4 separate regions of the Homo sapiens genome follow, and regions 1, 3 and 4 are each linked to region 2. The links come from fine-mapping of genetic effects on plasma protein levels. A gene starts in region 2. Each other region holds a variant in brackets. All regions are shown on one strand. Distances are between the middles of the regions. Region 1 has its middle 17 kb from the start of MUC3A. Region 2 holds the start of ACHE (acetylcholinesterase (Yt blood group)). Region 3 has its middle 11 kb from the start of MUC3A. Region 4 holds the start of MUC3A (mucin 3A, cell surface associated).

The links. PIP is the chance, under the fine-mapping model, that this variant and not a neighbour inherited with it causes the effect. The UK Biobank Pharma Proteomics Project read protein levels with antibody pairs (Olink). The fine-mapping took linkage between variants from a reference panel, not from the people measured, so its PIPs are less certain.
Region 1: its variant is fine-mapped to the plasma level of the ACHE protein (UK Biobank, PIP above 0.99).
Region 3: its variant is fine-mapped to the plasma level of the ACHE protein (UK Biobank, PIP above 0.99).
Region 4: its variant is fine-mapped to the plasma level of the ACHE protein (UK Biobank, PIP above 0.99).

What each region holds. Positions count from the first base shown.
Region 1 is chr7:100,930,046-100,935,194 of GRCh38, forward strand. No RefSeq gene overlaps it. Among named protein-coding and RNA genes, the nearest start is that of MUC3A, 17 kb to the right of the region's middle. RefSeq lists an enhancer at 3,366-3,867. The variant G/A (reference allele first, on the strand shown) is at 3,140.
Region 2 is chr7:100,893,342-100,898,465 of GRCh38, forward strand. It overlaps ACHE (acetylcholinesterase (Yt blood group)), which reads right to left and starts at 2,547. Exons shown (of 5, transcript NM_000665.5): 1 at 2,461-2,547; 2 at 1-911. The coding sequence starts at 891. RefSeq lists enhancers at 1-92, 2,364-2,984 and silencers at 2,339-2,388, 2,449-2,598, 3,821-3,900.
Region 3 is chr7:100,936,211-100,941,359 of GRCh38, forward strand. No RefSeq gene overlaps it. Among named protein-coding and RNA genes, the nearest start is that of MUC3A, 11 kb to the right of the region's middle. The variant C/T (reference allele first, on the strand shown) is at 2,215.
Region 4 is chr7:100,947,908-100,953,056 of GRCh38, forward strand. It overlaps MUC3A (mucin 3A, cell surface associated), which reads left to right and starts at 1,627. Exons shown (of 12, transcript NM_005960.2): 1 at 1,627-1,778; 2 at 3,934-5,149. The coding sequence starts at 1,718. The region is part of intron 1 of LOC105375431 (a long non-coding RNA gene); the gene reads right to left. RefSeq lists enhancers at 1,166-2,144, 2,145-3,123, 3,174-3,719. The variant TTTTTTG/T (reference allele first, on the strand shown) is at 3,093.

The DNA of each region.
Region 1 (5,149 bases), 37 kb after region 2:
GGGGTTCATGCCTGAGAACCACTGAGGGAGCCTCTTTCTTGTCTCATTGTACCTCCAATCTTTCTCATGAGCACCAAGAGGTGGAAAAGAGATTGCGAGTGAACTTGGGGTCTGCTAGATCCTGATGCACCCAGGGGGATTCTAAGTTGTCATGCTGGCCCACTCCTGGCCTCTGAGAATTCATTAAAATGTTGTTTTCCTATCACCTGCTTTTTTGGTGGCCACTTCTTCCTCCTGTGCTCTGACAAAGGTGGAACTTTTCATGTGTCCTGTCTCTCCTGAGAGGGTGCGGTCACTCTTTGGACCTCAGTTCACCTGGTTGCCTTGAAGCCTAAATTTCTGATGGGCTCAAGAAATGCCAAAACCTATAGATTACCCAGCTTTTTCTTCTTTTTATGGTAGGAGTGATAGTCTCTTGTGGATTTATTTTATGTATTAATTTTATTGCACTTTTTGTAGAGATGGGGGCCTTGCTAGGCTGCCCAGGCTGGTCTTGAGCTCCTGGCCTCAAACGATCCTCCTGCCTTGGCTTCTCAAAATGCTGGGATTACAGGTGTCAGTCACCATGCCCAGCCTCTTGTGGCTTTTTTACTCTAAGTGAAAGCATAAATCCAATAATTTTTATTTTTATTGTTATTGTTTGGAGATGAGTCTCACTCTGCCACGCAGGCTGGAGTGCAGTGGTACAATCCCGGCTCACTGCAACCTCTGCCTTCCAGGTTCAAGTGATTCTTCTGCCTCAGCCTCCTGACCAGCTGGGATTACAGGCACATGCCACCACGCCTGGCTAATTTTGTATTTTTAGTAGAGATGGAGTTTCACCATGTTAGCCAGGCTAGTCTCAAACTCCCGACCTCAGGATCTGCCCACCTCGGCCTCCCAAAGTGCTGGGATTACAGGCGTGAGCCATTGTGCCCAGCAAAAATCCAATAATTTTTAATAACTCAAAATATGATTTTGACTACGTAAATTTTTTTTTTTCCCTTTGTCCCTCTTTGTAATTTGATGCTTTGGTATCTCAGTTCTAGTTTTTGATTTGGCTCCAGGTAGTACAAGTTCTCATGGATTACATGTATGGTTTAGAATCCTGAAGTCAATGAGATGAGAGCAGACCTAACATCAAACACTTGAAGTAAAGAAATTTATGTGGAAGGAATATATAAAATGAGTTTACATTGGGTAGTTTGGATAAAGCATAACATTAGAGAAGGGTACATGTAGCTAGATGTGTCTTTACCTTTAAAAAAACTTGAATATTGAGGCTGGGTGCAGTGGCTCATGCCTGCAATCTTAGCACTTTTGGAGGCCAAGACGGGCGGATCACTTGAGGTCAGGAGTTTGAGACCAGCCTGGCCAACATGGTGAAACTATTTTTAGTCTCTACTAAAAATACAAAAATTGGCCAGGCATGGTGGTGCATGCCTGTAATCCCAGCTACTCAGGAGGATGAGGCAGGACAATCACTTAAACCTGGGAGGTGGAGGTTGCAGTTAGCTGAGATGGCACCACTGCACTCCAGCCTGGGCAAAAGAATGAGACTCAGTCTCAAAAAACAAACAAAAGAACCCAACAAACTTGAATAGCGAAAGGAGGATATTTTGATATGTTATTTCCATTTTCAGTAATAAATACATGTGTGTATCCAATAACTTATTAAAATGTAGATTTGTTTATTGAAAAACTTATTAGCATGAGGTCAGGAGATCAAGACCATCCTGGTTGACACAGTGAAACCCCATCTCTGCTAAGAAAGTACGAAGGAAAATTAGCTGGGTGTGGTGGCAGTGGTAGGCGCCTGTAGTCCGAGCTACTCAGGAGCCTGAGGCAGGAGAATGGTGTGAACCCGGGAGGCGGAGGTTGCAGTGAGCCGAGATCGTGCCACTGCACTCCAGCCTGGGTGACAGAGAGAGACTCCATCTCAAAAAAAAAAAAAAAAAAACAAACAAACTTATTAGGAGGTTTTAGTGGCAGATTAGACAGAGCTGAAGAGAGAATCTGTAAACTGAGAGAACAGAAGAAACTCACCACATGCTTCATGAGCAGCTATGAGACAGAAAATACGGAAGAGTAGTTAAAAACACATGAAGAATAGAAAGGGAAGGGTTAACCTCTATTTAATTGCAGTTCCTGGAGAAAAGAGTTAACGGGGGAAGAGAAAATATGTGAAGAGAGAATGGCTGGCAAGTTTCCCAAACTGAGAAGAGACCTTATCAGCTTTGAGAAGCCAAGGAATCCCAAGCATGATAAATACAAAGAAATCCATGCCCAGAAACATCCTGGTGAAGCTTCAGAATATTAACGAAACAGAAAGTCTTAAAGCAGCAAGAGAAAAAAAATTAAAGGCCTGACAGATTAAGCTCAGTCTTCTGTATAGCAACCTTGAAGCCGGAAGACAATGGAATCTTATTCATGTGCTGAAAAAAAAAAAAACTGTCAACTTAGAATTCTATACCTAGTAAAAATACTTTCAAGAGGCCGGGTGCGGTGATTCACACCTGTAATCCCAGCACTTTGGGAGGCCGAGGCAGGCAGATCATGAGGTCAGGAGTTTGAGACCAGCCTGGCCAACGTGGTGAAACCCCGTCTCTACTAAAATACAAAAAAATTAGCCGGGGTTGGTGGTGCATGCCTGTAGTCCCAGCTACTTGGGAGGCTGAGGCAGGAGAATCACTTGAATCTGGGAGGTAGAGGCTCACCATCTACCCGGCTAATTTTTTTGTATTTTTAGTAGAGACGGGGTTTCACCACGTTGGCCAGGCTGGTCTCGAACTCCTGACCTCATGATCCGCATCCCCCCTCCCCCCGCGGCCTTCGAAAGTGCTGGGATTACAGGCGTGAGCCACCGCACCCAGCTCAATGGCTGAACTTTTAGCTTCATTTTAGCAGAGTTCAGACACCCCCATAATCCTAATCTTGTGAGTTGTCATTAGTTTTACAAAGGCAGTTTGGTCCCAGAACAAACAGGTGGTAGTTTTGGGAAGGGCTATTATCATCCTTGCTTTAAGTTTAAACCATAAATTAAATTCCTCCCCAAGTTAACCTAGCCTATGCCCAGGAATGAACAAGGACAGTTTAGAGGCTAGAAGCAAGAAGAAGTCAGCTAGATTACATTATTTTACTGCCATCATTTTCCTGTGTC[G/A]GGTCTTACTCACTGTCATAATTTCTTTTTTCTTTTTTTTTAAAGACAGAGTCCTACTCTGTCACCCAGGCTGGAGTACAGTGGGGTGATCTCGGCTCACTGCAACCTCTACCTCCCAGATTCGAGTGATTCTCCTGTCTCAGCCTCCTGAGTAGCTGGGATTACAGGCACCTGCCACCATGTCCGGCTAAGTTTTAGTAGAGACGGGTTTTGCCATGTTGGCCAGGCTGGTCTCGAACTCCTGACCTCAAGCACTCCACCTACCTTGGCCTCCCAAAGTGCTGGGATTACAGGTGTGAGCCACTGCACCCGGCCTCTGTCATAATTTTTGCAAAGGCGGTTTCAGTGGGGTCTCCAAACCACTCTCCTTGGCCAGGTTACCAGTTTCCCACCTGGGCACAGTGGGTTAGGGTCCTGGGGGTTGGTCCTCCCAACTCCAGTGTCTTCTGGTACCATCCTCCCTCCTTGCAGCAAATATAGTGTCTGTGGTCCAACTCTGGAGTTACTGTGGCCAGAGGCTCTTAGTTACCAGATTAACTGTCCCTTCCCCACTCCTTTCCCCACCAACCATCTGCTTCTGTACCAGCTACCTGGCTAGGAGGATTTCTACCTCCCCCTACCTAGGGGTCTGGCCCTGTGGTAAGACTGCACCCACCCGTGAAGCCACGCCCCATCCAGGAAACCACACCCACTCAAGAAGCCCTGCCCACCCAAGAAGCCCCACCTGCCAGCAAGCCACAGCCATCCAAGAAACCCCACCCATCCAGGGAGCCCTGCCCAGCCCATCAGATGGTCCCACTCACCCATGAAAGCCACTGCCGAGGTATTCACAGCCCTGCTGCTATTCGGCCTGCCCATCAGGAGCCAGTCCACAGAACTCCATTAACCTTGCTGTCAAAACAGGGTTTCCTGGCTGGGGGGCTTACTCCTGTAATCCCAGCACTTTGGGAGGCTGAGGCGGGTGGATCATTTGAGGTCAGGAGAATAAGACTAACCTGGCCAACATGGGGAAACCTCGGGAGTTCTAGACCAGCCTGACCAACATGGTGAAACCCCACCTCTACTAAAAATACAAAATTAGCTTGGCATGGTGGCATGGGCCTCTGATCCCAGCTACTCAGGAGGCTGAGGCAGGAGAATGGCTTGAACCTGGGAGACTGAGGTTGCAGTGAGCCAAGATGAAGCCACTGCACTCCAGCCTGGGTGACAGAGTGAGACTCTGTCTCACAAAAACAAAAACAAAACAAACAGGGTTTCTTTTTATAGACAATCTCCAAAGGCAATTTCATGATGATTAGATTCAAACAGGATGGCACCTAGGAATTGTCCAATCTTCAACATTATCTAGAAAGTTTCTCCCAAATGATGCTTTAGTTTAGAATACTGTACCCCTCTCTCTCTCTGCATTTTCACAATCTGAGGTTTTTCTTGTTTGATCGTTTATTTTATTTTATTTTACTATTCTATTTTTTGCACCAGAACGCCCATGGAAACACATGCAGTCCCGTGACCTCACGCTGGATTTTTCAGTTTCTAGAAATTAAATCAGCAAATTTGGAGTCCAAAGAAATGGGTTGCTAGGTGTGGTGGCACACCCCTGTAATCCCAGCACTTTGGGAGGCTGAGGCAGGTGGATCACTTGAGGTCAGCAGTTTGAGACCAGCCTGGCCAACATGGCAAAACCCTGTCTCTACTGAAAACATAAAAATTAGCTGGGCATGGTGGTGCACGCGTGTATTCCCAGCTACTCGGGAGGCTGAGGCAGGGAAATTGCTTGAACCTAGGAGGTGGATGTTGCAGTGAGCCAAGGTCACGCCACTGCATGCCGGCTTGGGAGACATAGCGAAACTCCATCTCAGAAAAAAGAAAAAAAAAGAAATAGGTTGTTTAAAACTTGACAATAATAGAATTTTACATGAGAACTATGGGGGTGTCTAGCATGTTTCCCTTGAGTGTAGGCTGTCAGCATTGGTGAAGTGATCGCTTTGGGTTGCTGATTGAGAAGCTACT
Region 2 (5,124 bases):
GTCATTCCCACCAGTGCCGCCTGGAGGACAGCCCACAAGGTGGGCCAGCTGCGTGGCCCTGCGACGGGCCTCTCCCATGCCCACCGTGGCCCAGGGTCCATTGGGGGCACCGCTCTGCAGCACGGCCCTGTGGAACAGGCCCCGGCTGGGCGGGGACAGCAGGTGCATGCCCACCGAGGCGGCTCCCGCGCTCTCCCCAAACAGCGTCACTGATGTCGGGTCACCCCCGAAGGCTGCCACGTTCTCCTGCACCCACTGCAGGGCCAGCCTCTGATCCAGGAGACCCACATTGCCCGGGGCCTCTCGGCTCCCCGGCAGGGCCAGGAAGCCAAAGGCTCCCACCCGGTAGTTCATGGACACCAGCACAGTCCTCTCGGCCTGTACCAAGAAGCGGCCATCGTACACGTCCAAGGAGGAGGCCCCACTGTAGAAGCCACCCCCATAGATCCAGACGAGGACAGGGGTGGGGGATGTAGGCCGGGGGTATGGTGTCCACACGTTGAGGTACAGGCAGTCCTCGCTCAGCTCACGGTTGGGGTTCCACATCTCGGTGCCCTCAAAACCTGGGTATAGGGTGTCCACATATTGGTAGCAGACACTCTGGAAGGTTGTAGCGTCTACCACCCCTGACCAAGGCTGCTTGGGCTCCGGTGGCAGAAAGCGACGGGGTCCCATGGGTGGCTCCGCAAAGGGGATGCCCAGGAAAGCAGAGACAGGGCCCCCGGGGGTCTTCAGGCGAATGCCCCGCAGCCGGCCCCCACGCACCGTCACCAGCAGCTCTGCATCCTCCCGGCCCTCAGCCCCCACTCCTCCACCCAGGAGCCAGAGGAGGAGGAGAAGGAGTGGGGAAGCCAGGGAAGGCGTGTGCAGCAGACACTGCGGGGGCCTCATGGCTGCAGGGCAGGCGGCGTCTGCTGGGAGAAAGAAAGGGAAAGGGTGAAGGGTCGGTCGAGAAGCCAGGAGGGAGGAGATTAGGGCACTGTCGGCCCAAGGGTTATCGCTCAGCTGCAGAGGAGGTGGGGCAGGTTGGCAAAGATGAGGGGAGAGAGGGAGGGAGGGAAGGAGACAGGCAGAGACAAGGACACAGGCCAGCGGGCAGGAGGGGAAAGAGATCAGGCAGACACCCATATCCAGACAAATGCAGGGAACAGAGAGGAGCACCCTCTCTGCTCCGCAGGGGTCCACTGCCCTCACCTCTTCCCGGAACTGGGCCGGGCCCAGCTCGTGCAGTGAGGGCACCAGAAGCCTCAGTCCACGAACAGGCCACCCGACAGGGCGCGGCCTCACGGACGGGCAGCGCCGCTGGGGGAGCTTGCGGCGGCCTGAAGCGCAGCCCCGCTCTCCTGGGTCGGCCAGACCCGGGGCCCTGGGGGGCGGTGGGCTGGGCATTCAGGGTGTGGAAGCCTCAGGTCCCGGGGTCCCCCAAATCCTGCCTAGTCCACTCCCCACCCAACCCTGCCCCTTCTCATCCAATGTCTGGCACCGAGCGCTGATGCCCGCGGGTTCCCATCAGCTGCGCACGCTCCCAGCCCAGCCCCAGCAAACAGGCTCGCCAGCCCGCGTCCCCCAGGACTCGAGAGCCCCCCATCCGTCTGAAGCTGCCGTGCACGCCGCCGCCGGCGGAGGGCAGTAGAGACCGAGAAAAGGTCGGCGCTCCCCGCCCCGAGCCAGGAGCCGGGAACTTGGGGAGGGGGCCTGGGGGCTCGAGGGCCTTGCAGAGCCGCCTGAAGGGCGAGCCGGGACGCCTGCGTTCCCGGGACTCCGGAGATCCCCGGCTGCAGGGGCGGGGGCGCTATTTTGGGGGCAGCAGCTGCTACGGTTCCGGCATCTCCAGCCAAAGGATCAAAATTCCCCGGGTGGGAACTCCCCCCTCTCCCGCCGGTCACTCCTAGCCCAGCCCCCGCCGCCCTGAGCGGGGGGTGGTGGTGCTGCTGGAGATTAACTAGGAAACCCGAGTGGCGCTAATTATAACTCGGGGCTTCCGCCGAGCCTCCCCTTCCCAAAAAATAGAGATGGAGTCTCCGCGGGAGGGGGCGTCCTGGGCCTCGGAGGGGGCCTCTGCGGGGCGCTGCGCAGGGGCGCTGGCTTGTGGCCCTGGGGATGGGGGTGCCCAGCCCGGCGCCGGGAACCTGCGCAGCTCGGGTACCGCCCCAATTAGGGGGTGTCTTCCAGTGGCCCCGGACTAGGGAGCGATCGGGGAAGGGGTGCTCGGGGGTCCCCGCGGGAATCGGAGCGCAGAGGCGGCGGCCGTTCCCGCGGGCTCGGGCTCCTGCGTGGGCGTCGGTGAGTGTGAGGCGGCCGGGGAAGAGTTCCGGACGAGTGCGGGGCAGCGGAGGGCGGCGCGGGGCAGGCCCGGGGAAGCGGGAGCCGTCCCGTTAGGGGGGCCTGGACCCCTCGGGGAGCGCACGGTGCCCCGGACCCGGGCCTTAAGGAGAGTCCCGGGCGGGGAGGGAGACTCACCTGAGGCGGCCGAGCCGGGCCGGGCCGGGCCGCGCCGGGAGCTGGAGGCGGCCGATGTTCCCCGGCGCAGGCTGAGCCGACTCTGACAGCCGCCGCCTCCGGCCCCCCGCACACACCCCCTCCGGGCCTCACAGCGCCCCCGCCCGCCCCCGCCCACTGTCTCCGCCCCCGCCCCTCCCCGCTCTCCCGGGTGGCCACCTCCCCTCTCTCTCCCTCCCTTGGAGCCGAGACCCGGAGACCCCGGGGCCCAGACGCACTCCAGTGCCAGACGCCGACCGACGACAGAGCGCAGTGACAGACGCGACCCAAAGACCTGCAGCGGCGGAGTAGACACCCACGTGACAGACAGACGGACAGAAGCCCGTGGAGACAGACACGCGCAGACGGACGACCTCATGCAGTGACAGGCACAGACAAACGCAGGGACGACTTTCACAGACGGACGGACACACTTGGACACCCTGTCGGTCTCGCTCGAGGCTGGTGAAGTTAGCGCAAGGCCAAGGGGTCATGCATCCCCGGCCACGACACAGACGGGTGGCATGGGAGGAGAGGCATGTGGGAGTGTGGCAGAGTACCGTCCCCTTAGGGGTCCAGGTGGCACGGGTGCAGAAAAGGTGACGTGGGACACTCCTGGGGATGAAAGGACACCTGTGGGAATGGAGATGTAAAATGGGATCGCTAGTGGAAATGAGGTGGGAGGGCATGGAGACAGGAGACCCCTGGGGGAGGAAGGGGTGACTTGGGACACCTGAGAAGGCAGGACAGCGTGGTAGCACGCGCAAGGCTGCTGGGCGAGGCCGCACTCCGCGGCGGCAGTGGAAACTTCTGGAACCCCCGCGGGTGGGTCTGTGCTGGTTCCCTGACGGGTGACTTCGGACTTTCGTCACCAGGGTCCGGTCGGGGCATGACATCACCAGGCCTAGCATTCATTGGCCACGCGGCTGGCAGGTGGGAGCGGCCTGGCTCGGGCGCCCCCAGCCTGCTCCGAGGGGCCTGACCCGCGCAGATTGCCCCCCGCCCCGCCCTCCAGGAGTTCACCCGTGTGGACAGGGCTGCTGCAGCGGGGTCCCCACGACCGAGGTGCATGCGGCAATACCGCGCGGCGCCTGCTTCCTGGAGGCGGCCGGCTCAGGAGCCCCCGAGACCCCGCGTGGGAGAGCGGCCGGCGCAGGCCAGCGTCGGGCGTGCGTGCGCGCGCGCGGCGGTGCGGGGCGCGGCGTGGGGTGGGCGCGTGCGCACACGCTCGCTCTAACCGCCGCGCGCCCCGCAGCGCCCCGCAGCGCCTCGGGCACGCGGGCGCCGCCGCCAGGGACCGCGGGCACCGGGTTGCGGGGCCTCGCAGGGGTTGAATCCGGAGTCTTGCCAGTCCCTGGGCCGCGCGGTTCCCGGCTCTCCAAGCTGGGCGGGCCCCACGCCCGCTCGCCCCACGGGAACCGGGTCCCGCAGGCACGGTCACCCGCGCTCCGCTCGCTGGAGACGGCCGCCAGGTGGCGCAAAAAGCAGCCACTCGGGCCTCGGAGACTGGGCTGGGTTGGGGGTGTTGGGGAGGTGAACCCCTCGCCATCTGTGCCCACTGTCTCCGGCTTTCCCCGCCCCAATCTCAGGCAACCCCAAATCCCCTGCCTGGACACCGAGGCTCCTTGTATCCGGCCTTCAGCGTTCTGGCCGCACTAGTTGAAGGCTCCTCACTGGCCAGACCATGTGCCCTAGTTGAGATCCCTGAAGAGCAGATGTAAGGGCTGTGCATGGGGGAGGGGACAGGAGGGTGGATGGTGGGTGTTGCTGCGGGGGGAATGAATCTGAGGCAGGTTTCTAAGCGTGGTAATTATGAATTATTAAAATGATGGGGCCGCGTGTGGCCCCTAGTGCGGTGCCTGTAATCCCAGCACTCTGGGAGGCCGAGACAGGAGGATCGCTTCAGTCCAGGAGTTGGAGACTAGCCTGGGCAACATAGCGAGACTCCCTTCTCCGCAAAAAAATAAAATGATGGAAACAAACTGTGAACGAGTGCTCTGAGGCCTGCCCCAGTCCTGAGGCTTTAGGGATTTTTGGCCCTGCTAGTGATGAAGGCTTGCCCCTGTCACCCTCCAGACGAACTGTGCCACGCAGGTGTCACCTAACCTCTGTCGTCACGAGTTTCTAGGCCTGTACAATGAAGATAGGGAGGGCAGGGATAGTTTATCACCAGGGTTATCATTTCCTGGAACTATCCCTCTTTTCACCTTGAGCTCTCAGCAACCGTTGTCAACACAGGCACCTAACCTGTCAAGCCAGGAGGCGTTTCCCTACATAGTCTAGCATAGTAAACTCCCCACCCTCCACAGCTGTCACTGCAGGGATGTCCTTGATTTTTCCCATTTCTTCTCTCACCATTTCTGTTTATCCAGGAATGAGCCTTGCTTCTACTACCAGTTCTGCCAATTCAGAGAATTTCCCTACCCCTCTTTTATCTCTGTCTCCCACCTTGGAAGGAAGCGCCATTTTTTTTTTTTAGACAGAGTCTCGCTCTGTCGCCCAGGCTAGAGTGTAGAGATGATGCCATCTCAGCTCGCTGCAACCTCTGCCTCCTGGGCTCAAGGATTCTCCTTTCCCAGCCTCCTGAGTAGCTGGGACTAGAGGCGCCTGCCACCACACCTGGCTAATTTTTGTATATTTAGCAGA
Region 3 (5,149 bases), 43 kb after region 2:
ATGTTCTATCTCTAATGATCCAATATGGCAGACAGCAGCCATATGTGGCATTGTACTCTTAAAATATGGATAATGCAACTGAAGAACTAATTTTCTTTTTCTCTTTCTTCTTTCTTTCTTTCTTTCTTTTTTTCTGTTCTTTCTCTCTTTCTTTCTCTCTCTCTTTCTCTCTTTCTCTCTTTTTTTCTTTCTTTCAAGACAGGGTCTCACTCTGTCACCCAGGCTAAAGTGCAGTGGCACGATCCGGGCTTACTGCAACCTCCACCTCCCGGGTTCAAGTGATTCTCCTGCCTCAGCCTCCCGAGCAGCTGGGATTACAGGCGCCTGCCACCACACCAGGCTAATTTTTGTATTTTTAGCAGAGACAGGGTTTCACCACAGTGGCCAGGCTGGTCTCGAACTCCTGACCTCCGCCCGCCTCGGCCTCCCAAAGTGCTGGGATTACAGGCGTGAGCCACCACGCCTGGCCAGCCAACTTCTATTAATATTTTAGAAAAAGGGGATGCAAGTGCAGGTTTGTTACAAAGGTATATGATGTGATGCTGAGTTTTGGGGTATGAATGAATATGTCACCAAGGTAGTGAGCATAGTATCCAGTAGATCATTTTTTCAGCCCTTGCCCTGCTCCTTCTCTTCTACCTCTAATAGTCCCTGTGTCTATTGTTTTTATTTTTATGTCCATGTGCACCCAATATTTAGCTCCCACTTATAAGTGAGAATAAGCGTTATTTGGTTTTTTGTTTCTGCGTTAGTTAGCTCAGACTAGTGGTTTCCAGCTGTATCCCCGTTGCTGCAATGGACATGATTTTGTTCTTTTTTATGGCTGTGTAGTAATCCATGGTGTATGTATACTGTATTTTTCACCATAGATGGGCATCTAGGTTGATTCCATGTCTTTTCTATTGTGAATACTGTTGTGCCATGGGTGCAGGTGTCCTTTTGGTAGAACAATTTATTTTTTGGGGGGATAGTTACCCAGTAGTGGGGTTGCTGGGTTGGTTGGTACTTCGACTCATAGTTCTTTGAGAAATATCCGAACTGCTCTTCGTAATGGCTGAACAATTTACATTCTGACCAACAGTGAATGAGTGTTCCCTTTTCTCCACAGCCTTGCTGCCATCTGTTTTTTTTTTTTTAAATATATGAGGAAAGTCTTGCTCTGCCACCCAGGCTGGAGTGGAGTGGCATGATCATGGCTCACTGCAGTCTCAGACTCCTGGGCTCAAGCAATCCTCCTGCCTCAGCTTCCTTAGTAGCTGTGACTATAGGCACACACTACACCAACACACACAGATAATTTAAAATTTTTTTTTTTTTGGTAGAGATGAGGTCTCACTATGTTGCCCAGGCCGGTCTCCAACTTCTGACCTCAAGGGATCCTCTAGCCTCTGCCTCCCAAAGTGCTGAGATTTCAGGCATGAGCCACTATACCTGGTCTTTTTTTTTGACTTTTTTTTTTTTTTTTTTTTTTGAGGTGGAGTCGCACTCTGTCGCCCAGGCTGGAGTGCAGTGGGGCCATCTCAGCTCACTGCAACCTCTGCTTCCCGGGTTCAAGTGATTCTCCTGACTCAGCCTTCCGGGTAGCCAGGATTACAGGTGTGTGCCACCATGCCCGACTAATTTTTTTGTGTTTTTAGTAGAGACGGGGGCCAGGCTGGTCTCAAACTCCTGACCTCGAGTGATCTGCCAGCGTCAGCCTCCCAAAGTGCTGGGATTATGGGTGTCAGCCACCATGCCCGACCTTTCTTGACTTTTTAACAAAAGCCCTGATAAATGTAGTTATACCCTGACTTTGCCTCACTATAGGCCCCTGTGCCCACAAACTTCCTATGGTCACTTTCCTAATATCTAAGTGTAAAATTGAGATTAATATCCTCACCACCCTGCAGAATTCCCACACTGACTTCCTAACCTATAGAATAAGAAATGTTAGGATGAGACCAGTGGATGGCTCTTGTCAAAATAGTAAACCAAAAGCAATTCTGCACTGCTGCATTTAATCACAGTGATTTTTTTTTTTTAAAACAGTGTCTCACTATGTTGCCCAGGCTGGTCTTGAACTCCTGGGCTCAAGTGATCCTCCCGTCTCCCAAAGTGTTAGGATTACAAGTGTGAGCCACTGTGCCCAGCTGAAAGATTCGTCTTGACATAACAAAGAATCGCCCTCCAAAACCTATTAATGATTGGCCGGGTATGGTGGCTCACACCTGTAAT[C/T]CCAGCACTTTTGGAGGCCGAGGTGGGCAGATCACCAGGTCAGGAGATCGAGACCATCCTGGACAACATGGTGAAACCCCATCTCTACTAAAAATACCAAAATTAGCTGGGTGTGGTGGCATGTACCTGTAATCCCAGCTACTTGGGAGGCTGAGGAAGGAGAATCACTTGAATCTGGGAGGCAGAGGTTGCAGTGAGGTGAGATTGTGCCACTGCACTGCAGGCTGGTGACAGAGCGAGACTCCGTTTCAAAATAAACAAATAAACATATAAAAAAAACCTATTAATGACCTTAGCTTTATAGATGTACTTAGTGCCATGGTCTGAATGTTTGTGGCTCCCCGAAATCCATATATGTTGCCATCTTAACCCCCAAGGTGATGATATCAGGAGGTGGGGCCTTTAGGAGGTGTTTTAGTCTGTTCTCACATTGTTATAAAGAAATAACTGACACTTCGGGAGTCCGAGGTGGGTGAATCACTTGAGGCCAGAAGTTCGAGACCAGCCTGGCAAACATGGTGAAACCCCTCTCTACTAAAAAATGCAAAAATTAGCTGGCAGTGGTGACACACACCTGTAATCCCAGCTACTCGGGAGGCTGAGGCAGGAGAATCACTTGAACCCGGGAGGTGGAGGTTGCAGTGAGCCAAGATCGCACCACTGCACTCCAGCCTGGATGACAGAGCAAGACTCTGTCTCAAAAAAAAAAAAAAAAAAAAAGAAGGAACTGAGACTGGGTCATATATATGTTTAATTGGCTTAGGGTTCTGCAGGCCATGCAGGAAGCATGGCTGGGGAGGCCTCAGGGAGCTTTTACTCATGGCAGAAGGCAAAGCCTGAGCAGGTGTCTTCACACAGCCAGAGCAGGAGGAAGAGAGAGAGTGGGGAGGTGCCACACACTTTTAAACAACCAGAGCTCATGAAAACTCTACCACAAGAATAGCACCAAGGGGATGGTGTTAAACCATTTATGAAGGATTCACCTCCATGATCCAATCACCTCTCACCAGGCCCCACCTCCAGCACTGGGGATTACATTTTAACATGAGATTTGGGTGGGGACACAGACCCAAACCATATCAGGAGGTGATTAGGCCATGGTGGTGGAGCCCTCATGAATGGGATTAGTGCCCTTATGAAAGAGACCCAGAGGCCAGATAAGGTCATACCCATAATCCCAGCACTTCGGGAGGCTGAGGTAGGTGGATCACTTGAGGTCAGGAGTTCGAGACCAGCCTGGCCAACATGGTGAAATACATCTCTACTAAAAGTACAAAAACTAGCAGGGCATGGTGGCACATGACTGTAGTCCCAGCTACTTGGGAGGCTGAGGCAGGAGAATCATTGATCCTGGGAGGAAGAGGTCGCAGTGAGCCCCAAGCCTGCCTGGGTGACACAGTGAGACTCTGTCTCAGGAAAAAAAAAAAAAAAAAAAAAAAAAGGAGACCTAGAAAGACCCTTGCCCTTCTACCATGTGAAGACACAGAAAGAAGGAACTGTCTATAAGCCAGAAAGCAGGATCTCACTAGACACAAAATCTGCCTTGATCTTGGACTTCCCAGCCTCTAGAACTATGAGAATAAATGTCTGTTGTTTATAAACTACCCAGTTTACAGTATTTTGTTGCAGCAGCCTGAACAGACTAAGATACTTTGCTGATTTTTTTTTTCTTTTTTGTAGCTGTCCTTTAATAGGTTGAGGAAGTTCCTTCTATTTACTAGTTTTCGGAGAGCTTTTATCAGTAATGGACGTCAGATTTTGTCAAATGCTTTTCCTGCATCTATGGAAATGATCATGTGGTTTCTCATCTTTAGACTGTTGACATAAGAAATTACATTGATTCATTTTCAAATGTTTAACCAGCTTTGTATCCCTGGGATTAACCCCACTTGGTCATGATGCATTATTTTTATGTATTGCTATGTTTTATTTCATAATATTTCCTTGAGGATTTTTGTGTCTATATTCATTAGGGCTATCGGTCTAGTTTTCTTGTAATGTATTTGTCTTGGTTTGGTATCAGAATAATGCTGGGCTCATAAACAAAGTTGGGAAGTGTTCCATTTTCTGAAAGAGTTTGTGTACAGTTGGTATGATTTCTTCCTTAAGTGTTTGCTGGAATTCAATAGTAAAGCAATTCAGTCATATTAGCAAGCTTAGATCTTTCTATAGGAAAGACCGTGGTATGATTTTTTTTATTATACTTTAAATTCTAGGATACATGTGCACAACATGAAGGTTTGTTACATAGGTATACATGTGCCATGCTGGTTTGCTGCACCCATCAACTCGTCATTTACATTAGGTATTTCTCCTAATGCCATCCCTCCCCCAGCCCGCCAGCCCCCAACAAAGTCCAGTGTGCGATGTTCCTGCCCTGTGACCAAGTGTTCTCATTGTTCAATTCCCACCTATGAGTGGGAACATGCAGTGTTTGGCTTTCTGTCCTTGCGATAGTTTGCTAAGAATGATGGTTTCCAGCTTCATCCATGTCCCTGCAAAGGACATGAACTCATCCTTTTTTATGGCTGCATAGTATTCCATGGTATATATGTGCCACATTTTCTTGTCTTTTTATTCATTTTCTTTTTTTGAGATGGAGTCTTGCTCTGTCACCCAGGCTAGAGTGCAGTGGTGCAATCTCGGCTCACTGCCAGCTCTGCCTCCCGGGCTCATGCCATTCTCCTGCCTCAGCCTCCTGAGTAGCTGGGACTACAGGCGCCTGCCATCACGTCTGGCTAATTTTTTGTATTTTTAGTAGAGATGGGGTTTCACCACGTTAGCCAGGATGTTCTTGATCTCCTGACCTTGTGATCCACCCTCTTCAGCTTCCCAAAGTGCTGGGATGACAGGCGTGAGCCACCACATACTTTTAAATAAAACGTACACCTCAATAAATTCACTAAGACCAATCATGCTATAGATATCTGGGCTT
Region 4 (5,149 bases), 55 kb after region 2:
GACCACAGGGGCACACCACTATGCCTGGCTAATTTTTTTTGTGTTTTTTTTTTTTTTTTGGTAGAGATGGGGTCTTGGCATGTTGCCCAGGCTGGCCTGGAACATTTGGGCTCAAGAGATCCTCCTGCCCCGGCCTCCCAAAGTGCTGGAATTACAGGCGTAAGCCACTGAATCTGGCCTGAGCACAGTGTTCTGTAGGGTGACTATTCCATCTTCTTTCTGGGTTGAAACAATCGTTTGGGCTGTTTCCAATTTCCATCAAAATTGCCATAATCGAGAGTCAATAAACATCCTCATGAATGCTGCCTTGAAGGGTTTCTTGGACACAGAGATGGAGGGTGAAATTGCTGGGTCCTAAGGCACTCATTTAAAATTTTAATAGATGCCACCAAATTACCCCTTTAAAGCAACCCAACCCACCTACACACCCACCAGCTGGATAAGAACATTTGTTTTACTTTATCTTGTTTTTGAAATGAAGTGTCGCTCTGTTGCCCAGGCTGGAGTGCAGAGGCACGATCTCAGCTCATTGCAACCTCTGCCTCTGGGGTTCAAGCAATTCTCCTGCCTCAGCCTCCCAAGTAGGTGGGATTACAGGTGCCCACCCCACGCCAGGCTAATTTTTGTATTTTTAGTAGAGATGGGGTTTCACTATGTTGGCCAGTCTAGTCTCGAACCCCTGACCTCAAGTGATCCTCAAATTACTCTTTTAAAACAACCCAACCCACCTACACATCCACCAGCTGGGTAAGAACGTTTATTCTTCACACCTTTGCCCAAACTGGATAGGTCAAACAATGTGCTGGGTCCAAACCAGTTTTTTTTTTTTTTTTTTTTTTTTGAGATGGAGTCTCGCTCTGTTGCTCAGGCTGGAGTGTAGTGGTGTGCTCTTGGCTCACTGCACCCTCCACCTTCTGGTTTCAAGCGATTTTTCTGCCTCAGCCTATTAGTAGAGATGGGGTTTTGCCATTTTGCCCAGGCTGGTCTCGAACTCGTGACCTCAAGTGATCCACACCCCTCAGCCTTGCAAAGTGCTGGGAATACAGGCGTGAGCCACCGCGCCGGGCCCAGACTAGTATTTTTGAGTGTTTCCTTTGGTCATCCATGTTTCCTTTTCTGGGACCTAGCCCCAACTCTTCAGATAATAAAATGACTTCAGATGGAATTCTGTGTTAATTACTCCCACGGTTTTTTCTGGCCTATGGGGTCCTGCGGGGGACAGGATGGAGCAGGGGCAGACTGAGGGACAGAAGGGGCTTGAAGGAGAGCGAGGTGCCACTGTCTCCCCAGCAGGAGGAATTGAAACTCAGGAGAGGCTGCAGGAGTAGGACCAGACTCCAGAGTCCAAGCCCTCGGTCAAGGGTACCCTCCACGGGTGTCGGGGAGGAAGGGCAGCTTCCAGGCAGTTCCATGTGGGCCAGGCAGGCTGTGGGGCTGAGCCAATAGCAGCTCTTCCTGCCTGACACTTCCTGGACTTGTCCTATCTTTTTCCCCCGTGTCCCGCTTCCCACAGCGCTGACGTCTGTCTGTCCGGGTGCAGGGAGAAGGGAGGAAGAGGGGAGAGGTGGGGCGGTGCAAAGGTGAGGCTGTGCTCAGCCCTGACGCTCAGCAAAACCGATAACCAGCACTTTCATTACGTGCACGCCCCAGGGCCACGTCCCTGCCGCTGTCTTGGTCCTGAAGCCTGTTCTGCCCCAGCCCCCTGCCCGCTGGGCCCATGCAGCTGTTGGGGCTCCTCGGCCTCCTCTGGATGCTCAAGGCCTCCCCGTGGGCCACAGGTAAGGGGGAGAGGCGGAAGGGGGTTGGAGAAAAGCTCCTGATGTGATGTTCCAGGAAAGGGGAGGGAAAAGTGGCTGTAAGGCCTGGGGAGGGGGGATAAGAAGGCACCGCTTGGGGCTCTGGGTGCAGGGAGAACCGAGGCACGGCCTGACTGGGGGAGGGGGCGGTGAGGAGAGGTTTCTTCCAGAGCTCCAGGTGCAGGGAAAACCGAGGTTGGGAAAGAGTGAGGGAGCTGGGTCTCTGCCACTCTCCACCAAGCACTGAGCAGGTTGCAGCGGCTGAGCCCCAATCTGTATCTGCAGCTGGAGGGTAGAGGGTGGGATTTACGTCTTCCCAGAGCAGTGCCCTTCCTGTCTTGACTCCTTCTGTCACCTGCCTCACGCCCCCAGCTTGAGTGTCCCCTTCACACTGGCCTCTCCCTCCCTGACAGCCCTCTAACTTCTACCCCTGGTCTCGGTCCTCTGGTTTCAGCCTCTCTGCCTTTTGTCCCCCGGCGGCTCCTCCCCAGCTCTGCCGTCACTCTCTTACCCCGGCCAGGGCCCATGTGTCTGGGTACAGCTGTTGGTACCAGGGCCGGGGCAGGGAGCTCCTGATGTCCACTTCGCTTCCAAGGGTGCGTCTGAGACTACCCGTCGTGGGGTCCCAGGCTTCTCTCTTCTGCCCTGCAGGAACACCTCGCAATTCCTCTATACTTCTCTTTTCTCTGTACTTCAGTGTCTGCTTCTGATCCCCGATCCCAGGCCACCCAGCCTACAGGCCCATGAGTCCCCTTCTCAGTCACCTCCAGGGCCACATCCTGGAGCCAAGGGCTGTAGCCTGGGGATTCTCATAATCCCTGACCCCACTTCCCTGGCACCCACGAGCTAGGTTGAGACGTGACACCCCAGCTCTCAGCCACAAGATGGGCTGTGCCCGAGGTGAGGGGTAGCAGGTCGGGTACCTCCCACTTCCCATCTGCTGTGGCTGCCTGTCTTCCTTGTCCCTGACACCCCCGACAGCCGGATCTCTGATCCTAACTCTGACAAATTGTGAAATGGGTTGAAATCCACATGCTGGGGTTCATGCTTGTAAACTAATGAATCCCACGGCCAAAAGGGAATAGTATAGAAAAATATGTCTATTTGTGTGATGAACACTCACTGCTAAGCCTTAAGGTCTCCAGAACTCATCACGCCTGACTGCTGAGGTAGCTCCTTCTGGAAGTTTCCTTTTCTATGCTGTCTCTCTGCCTCTTCACCTAGTCCTCACTCCATGCCCTTTGAAGTCATTAGTGTGTGAGCTTAGCCTGTTTCTCTTTGGTGTTCTCTGGGCAG[TTTTTTG/T]TTTTTGTTTTTGTTTTTGTTTTTGATGGAGTCTTGCTCTGTCACCCAGGCTGGAGTGCAGTGGCACCATCTCAGCTCACTGCAGCCTCTGCTTCCTGGGTTCAAGCGATTCTCCTGCCTCAGCTACAGGTACACGCCACTACGCCTGGCTAATTTTTGTATTTTGTTTTAGTAGAGAAAGGGTTTCACCATGTTGGTCAGACTGGTCTCGAACTCCTGACCTCAAGTGATCTCCTGCCTTGGCCTTTCAAAGTGCTGGGATTACAGGCATGAGCCACCGTGCCTGGCCCTCTTTGTTCAGCTTTCCCTGTCTCCTGGTTTTTGTGATGCGCCCCCTGCCAGGACATGGCTGGGTTCTCTCTTTTTCTCTTTGAAAGCGGAGTCAGCCCAGACAGCAGCAGGGTGCCGGGAGAAGCAGTGGTGGGAGCAGAAGGTTAATGGGGGGATGGGAGCACTCCAGGCAGTAGCAGGGGGAGGAGAGGAAGGGGCAGAGGGAGGAGGAGCCTGGGTGTGACCAGAGGAGGGAAGGGAGGGGAGGGAGGCTCTGCCCAGCTCGGCTATATCAGGACAGGAGGACCTGCCATGACAAGGCCAAGGCCCGGTGAGGAATGAGGGCTCCCATGCCCCACTGCTCCCCTAGGAGCAGACAGGCAGTCGTCTCCAGCACCACAAAGCACCCAGCTCCAAGCTGCCTCTGATGCAGGAGTCAGCTGTAATATGCCCTGCCCTCTGTGATGCTGCCTGGAAAATGGGTGAGTGAGTAGCTTACATGAGTGATGTAACAAAATGACCCACGGATTTACCAGTGGATTCCTCTGCTCTGCCGCCAATGCAGGAACTTTATCCACGGCCACATCCATCTCTCAAGTGCCTTTCCCCAGAGCAGAAGCAGCCAGCGCTGTGCTCAGCAATTCTCCACACTCCAGAGACCTGGCTGGGTGGCCACTTGGTGTCCCCCAGCTCGCCTCTCCTGCTCCTGGCCACAGGGAAAATGCACCTATGACACTCACTACCTCCCCCCATGACACACTCATCTCTGAAACATTGCTCAACTCTCCAGTCAGTTCCAACACCTCAACCACCCCGACGTCCAAGTTTGCCTTCAAGGTTGAAACCACTCCACCCACCGTGTTGGTCTATTCAGCCACCACTGAGTGCGTGTATCCAACGAGCTTTATAATCACCATCTCCCACCCCACCTCCATCTGTGTGACCACGACGCAGGTGGCCTTCACCAGCTCTTACACCTCGACTCCCGTGACACAGAAGCCAGTGACCACCGTCACCAGTACTTACTCTATGACCACTACTGAGAAAGGAACGTCAGCCATGACATCTTCTCCCTCTACCACCACTGCAAGGGAAACTCCCATAGTGACAGTGACACCCTCCTCTGTGTCAGCCACAGACACAACCTTCCACACTACAATCTCGTCTACAACTAGAACCACAGAAAGGACTCCCCTGCCCACTGGAAGCATCCATACAACCACGTCCCCAACCCCAGTATTTACTACTCTCAAAACAGCAGTGACTTCCACTTCCCCCATCACTTCTTCAATCACTTCCACAAATACAGTGACTTCTATGACAACGACCGCCTCCCAGCCCACAGCCACTAATACATTGTCATCACCCACTAGGACCATTTTATCTTCCACACCTGTCCTGAGCACAGAAACAATCACCAGTGGTATCACAAACACCACCCCCCTATCCACCTTGGTGACCACACTCCCCACTACCATCAGCAGGTCTACACCTACATCTGAGACCACCTACACTACTTCTCCCACCAGCACTGTCACAGACTCCACTACCAAAATCGCCTACTCCACAAGTATGACAGGTACATTGTCCACAGAGACTTCTCTCCCACCCACCTCTTCCTCTCTCCCAACCACAGAAACAGCCACGACTCCTATGACAAACTTGGTAACCACCACCACTGAGATCTCCTCCCACAGTACTCCCAGCTTCTCTTCATCAACCATCTACTCCACAGTCAGCACATCCACAACTGCCATCTCCTCACTTCCCCCTACCTCAGG